Regions from separate parts of the Homo sapiens genome. Here region 2 is linked to region 1. Evidence: fine-mapped expression QTL. A gene starts in region 1. The other region holds a variant in brackets. All regions are shown on one strand. Distances are from middle to middle.

Region 1 (2,500 bases):
ATGCACAAATACTTACCACTGCATGTAACTGCACACACCACTGAGTACAGCAACACGCTGCGCAGGCCTGTAACCTAGGAGCAACAGGCCATGCCATACAGCTTAGGTGTGGAACAGGCTGTACCATTCAGGCTTGTGTAAGCGCTTTCTACGGTGTTCGCACAACAACAAAATGGCCTAAGAACACATTTCTCAGAAAATATCACATCGCTAAGGACGCATGACTGTATGTCAAATGCTATGACAGGAGATGGTTTTTATTCTTTTTAAGTTTATTTAACGAGCATGCATTATTTTGATATATATCACAGGCCATTTCCCGCTAGCTGTAAATCAGAGTCAAGTGACAGCAAGAATTGGCTACTAACTACCCATATCTAACACCTGCCCCCCAAAGCGGCTCAACGGTGGGCATTTGCCAGTCAGGACTACAGGTGGAGGAGCGGCGGCTGCAAGCCGCGACCCAGCCTCCCCGCAGCCTCAGCGTCGGCCTCTGCACTCGGGCTTGCCGCTCCCAACAAGAGGAGGGCCGGGAGGCGGACGAGGGAAAAGCAAAGCCGGGGCCGCTAGCCTCCGCACCCGGATCCCGCCCCTCGGCCGCAGGCCCGGGCCGCACTCCGACTGAGCAACTCCGACCGAAGCGCCGGGCCCGGCCCTACCTTGTAATAAAACACCGCCTCGGAGTAGCGGCCTTCGTGGTCGCGCTGAACCGCCAGACGGGCGAACTGCACAGCGTCCCGCTCCAGTGCTGTGGCGTCCATGGCGCAGTGGCCCCGCGCCGGGGCAGGGAAGGAGGCCCTGACGCAGGACGGCTCTTCGCGGACTGCGGCGGCCCGGCGGCGGCGAGGACTCGGGAGCGCCGCGGAAGGAGCGGCAAAGTTTACTTTGGACGGTGGAGGAGAGCTCGCCTTCCCGTTGCCGGGCTGGGGTCCACCGCGAAGCCGCGCCCCTCAGCCCAGACCCGGCTTGTAGCCCACCCGGCCGCCCCACTTCGCGGCCCCAGCGGCCCTCGCCCCGCCCACCAGCCGCCCGACGCAGGCGCAGCCTGGCCCTCACGAGCTCCTTAGAAGCTGGGGCCGCCGAGGCCAGGCTCGCGGGACTGCGCGGGCTGTGGGCGGGGCCGGGCCCACGCAGGAGCCGGGCCGCGGGGGCGGGGCAAAAAGGCCTGCCGCTGTGCACGTGACCGTCGCGGCGCCCGGGATTGAGCAGCTGAGGGCAGGTGCCACGTCCGAGCTGCCCACACACCGCCTTATGCGTGGCGGTGGCGGTGCAGGGCGAGGCTGTTTTCGTCGACAGTGGGCAGTAGAGGGGTACGCGCCTTACAGATCCTTTCCTCTGTTAAGTGTAAGGGATGGGAGTAAAGAGCTAAGGAAGAATGCCTCCCACCAGCATCTGACACATTAAAAAAATTACCGTGAGGACAGAGGTTCTTTAGAGTCACTCTTCGCTAACATTTATTTTCATTTGTTTTCCACAAGCTGAATCATGACCCTATAGCCCCCCACTGTACACCAAGGTCGTATTGATTGAATTGTTAACAAACAAGGTAATGTATTTCCACTTGTACTTACCCTTAGGTTAACTTGATGCTGTTGTAATTAAATACTTAATTAGGTGATTATTTGATTTATGTCTTCTCTCCCCTAAAGGTCTGAAGTCAGCAGTAATAAAAATGAATTAGTGATGGGCACCACCAAATTCATGCTGAGTCAAAGAAGTAAGAATTGAGTACATAATGTATAATTCCATCTATAAGAAACACTAGAAAACACTACGATGTTAGAAAGCAGATCAGTGGTTGGGAAGGGGATACAAAGGAATCTTTTCGGATGATGAGAATGTTTTATATCTCAATGGTGGTGTAAAAATATATACGTTTGTCAAAACTTATCAAACTACATTTTAAGTGTGTACTTTTAATTTTTTAATTATACTCTAAATTTTTTTTCAGTCATTTGGCCTGCATTTAAAATGGGACTCTAATTTCTTAGTTTAAGTGTATTTCTTCACATTTAGTGAAGTTCTTAATAACAACGGTCTCATCAGGCTGTTATAAAGACACACAGAATTTGATTTTGTGCCTGGCCCAAAGATGGCTCTCAAAGGTAGCAACTACAGTTTTATAGCTGAAGCAGGGATGCTTCCTGTCTTTACCACTTTGATCCCAGCGTTGAGCGCAAGCCTTGTTCCAGAGCAGGTGTTCAACAAATATTTTAAAATGTTGAATGAGTCAACTCCACTACTTAAATATATCTAATGTGAGAAAGTCCTTCAGTACATGAGTTCAGGCCATATGTGTTTCAGTCACTGTTTTGCACAAACTGACCCCCAAGCTACAGCAGATAAATATAGTTTTACTCCTCACAGGACTTCGGTTCCTGCTCCCATCACAGCTTATAGAATTCCTAGTGCATCTTGAAGGAAGCCTTTTATTGCACTCCCAGGTAGTTGAGATCTCTTCCTATATTTATTCCTATATTCTGTATAAGGAATTGAATCC
Region 2 (2,965 bases), 240 kb before region 1:
CTCAACTATTTGAACCTTTCCATTAATTTGATCCTTAGGGTGGATCCTTAGGGTGTTGACTGCTGCAGTTTCAAGCTTACATCTGCACCCTGCAGAATCCAGAGGAAGAGACAATGCCTGTTCCAGTGGCTCTCAAGAAATTCTTTTCCAGCCAGGCATGGTGGCTCATGCCTGTAATCCCAGCACTTTGGTAGGCTAAGGTGGGTGAATTGCTTGAGCTCAGGAGTTCGAGATCAGCCTGTATAACATGGCGAAACCCCATCTCTATAAAAAATACAAAAATCAGCTGGGTGGAGTGGCGTACACCTTCACTCTCAGCTACTTGGGAGGCCGAGGCAGGAGGATCGCTTGGGCCCAGCAGGTTCAGGCTGCAGTGAGCCATAATCACACCACAGGACTCCAGCCTGGGTGACAGGGTGAGACCCTTTCTCAAAAAAAAAAAAAAAAAAGAAAAAAAAGAAAGAAAATTTATTTTCTGGAAATCCCCAGCAAACCAAGGAGGCAGTGAGCCTCCTTGGTCTGCTTTGGGTCACACGCCTGTTACTGAACCAATTTCTATTGGTCAGGAGAATGGCACTTGCTGACGAATGAAGGCTGGGTTCCTGAACCCATGGAGACAAAGGTTATAAGAATTTAGGACCACTGCATCCTGTCTTAATCCAAAGTACCGGAAAACCTTCTGCATGCCCAACCTGGGAACTGTTCCCCATCACTACCATCCAGCCAAACAATCGGCTACAATGCTCTTCCTCTTCTAGAATGTTGCTGACCCAGGCCATGGGCTTAGCTTAGCACTGTTAGACACGTTATTCTTAGCCTATCCCCTGGAGATTCTGCAGAAGCACAGAGGCTACATGGGGGTGACTTCTGGACCAAATATTGGGGAGCATGAATTGGGGGAATGGGTACAGGGCACACATAATGTCCATTCCACTGGTTATCTGGTTTTGCTTCTCCTTTTGGCAGGAATAGGTGCTGAGTTGCTTGAGGCAAACCTTTGGGAAGACTGCTCACACCATACCCAGAAAGCTACTGGTTGATTCTTTTTTTTTTTTTTTTTTTTTTGAGATGGAGTCTCGCTCTGTTGCCCAGGCTGGAGTGCAGTGGCACAATCTTAGCTCACTGCAACCTCTGCCTCCCGGGTTCAAGTGATTCTCCTGCCTCAGCCTCCTGAGTAGGTGGGATTATAGGTACAAGCCACCATGTCTGGCTAATTTTTGTATTTTTTTTTTTTTTTGAGACAGTGTCTCACTCTGCTGCCCAGGCTGGAGTGCAGTGGTGTGATCTCAGCTCACTGCAAGCTCCACCTCCCGGGTTCACACCATTCTCCTGCCTCAGCCTCCTGAGTAGCTGGGACTACAGGCGCCCGCCACCACACCTGGCTAATTTTTTGTATTTTTAGTAGAGACGGGGTTTCACCATGTTAGCCAGGATGGTCTCAATCTCCTGACCTCGTGATCCGCCTGCCTCGGCCTCCCAAAGTGCTGGGATTACAGGTGTGAGTCACCGCACCCGGCCTGTACTTTTAGTAGAGATGGGGTTTCATCATGTTGGCTGGGCTGGTCTCGAACTCCTGACCTCAAGTGATCTGCCTGCCTTGGCCTCCCAAAGTGCTGGGATTATAGACAGATGTGAGCCACCGTGCCCGGCCTGCTGTTC[G/A]AGTCTTTTAATTTTTTTTTTTTTGGTAGAGATTGAGTCTCACTATGTTGTCCAGGGTGGTCTCAAACTCTTGGCCTCAAGCGATCTTCCCACCTCCACACCCTGAAGTACTGGGATTGCAGGCCTGGTTGATTTTGACAGGTCCACTCACAGAGACTGACTTCTCACAGAGTGCCATAGGTCAAGAAAGATGTGGTGTAGTTTGTGAAAAAAGCAGAAGATTGGATTCACACATCTGGATTTGAAGCCTGGCTCTGCCACAAACTCGCTGTTTAATTAACCCGCTTAATTTACTTCACTTCTCTGAGTCTCTGTTTTCTTACCTCTAAATGGGGAATAATAGTACCTTATTTCAAGGTTGTGGTGAATTTTAGTGATAACATGGTTTAAGGCCGGGTGTGGTGGCTCACGCCTGTAATCCCAGCACTTTGAGAGGCCACGGTGGGCAGATCACCTGAGGTCAGGAGTTCAAGATCAGCCTGGCCAATATGGTGAAACACCCAACTCTGCTAAAACTACAAAAATTAGCCAGGTGTAGTGGTGCACACCTATAATCCCAGCTACTGGGGAGGCTGAAGCATGAGAATCGTTTGAACCTGGGAGTCAGAAGTTGCAGTGAGCTGAGATCGTGCCACTGCACTCCAGCCTGGGTGACAGAGTGAGACTGTCTCCAAAAAAAAAAAAAAAAAAAAAATGTTTTGGAAGTGTTGGATTTTATTTGTTGTTATCATTATTTAGTGGCTCAGGCCAAATCAATCACCTCTTTGGGGATCTAGGGGTATTCACAAAGTTTCACAGTGATTTTTTTCAGGTGGCGGGAGTAACAAAGCAAGGCTAGAGATGTCATTGGAAAGAAAGCAGTAGTCACTCAAAATAAGGAATGGTTGGCCGGATGCAGTGGCTCTTGCCTGTAATCCCAGCACTTTGGGAGGCCAAGGTGGGTGGATCACCTGAGGTCAGGAGTTTGAGACTAGCCTGGCCAACATGGTGAAACCTCATCTCTACTAAAAATACAAAAAACGTGGCTGGGCATGGTGGCAGGCACCTGTAATCCCAGCTACTTGGGAGGCTGAGGCAGGAGAATCTTTTGAACCTGCGAGGCAGAGATTGTAGTGAGCATCATGCATTGCACTCCAGCCTGGGCAACAGAGCAAGACTCCCTCTGAAGGAAAAAAAAAAAAAAGGAATGGTTATGACACTTTTCAATTGCAGCAGTGTGGGAGAAATATTTCTCCTGTTAACGTTGCAACTGGCTTTCTGGTGTCGGCTATGACAGTCTGAGGCATGGTAGGGGCACAGAGCTGAC

Direction of the effects. Alleles are on the strand shown, and positions count from the first base shown. SD is a standard deviation of normalised expression in the study named.
As copies of A replace G in region 2, the expression in prefrontal cortex of the gene that starts at base 1,011 in region 1 goes down (large effect, 0.92 SD a copy in BrainSeq).

What was found. PIP is the estimated chance that this variant, and not a neighbour inherited with it, causes the effect. A credible set is the group of variants that fine-mapping cannot tell apart.
Region 2: its variant is the best candidate, but not a certain one, in a credible set for the expression of CAPN7 in prefrontal cortex (BrainSeq, PIP 0.59).

Annotation. Positions count from the first base shown.
Region 1 is chr3:15,204,757-15,207,256 of GRCh38, reverse strand. It overlaps CAPN7 (calpain 7), which reads right to left and starts at 1,011. Exons shown (of 21, transcript NM_014296.3): 1 at 660-1,011. The coding sequence starts at 761. It also overlaps the pseudogene COL6A4P1. RefSeq lists a silencer at 786-1,305.
Region 2 is chr3:15,444,919-15,447,883 of GRCh38, reverse strand. No RefSeq gene overlaps it. Among named protein-coding and RNA genes, the nearest start is that of EAF1, 19 kb to the right of the region's middle. The variant G/A (reference allele first, on the strand shown) is at 1,660.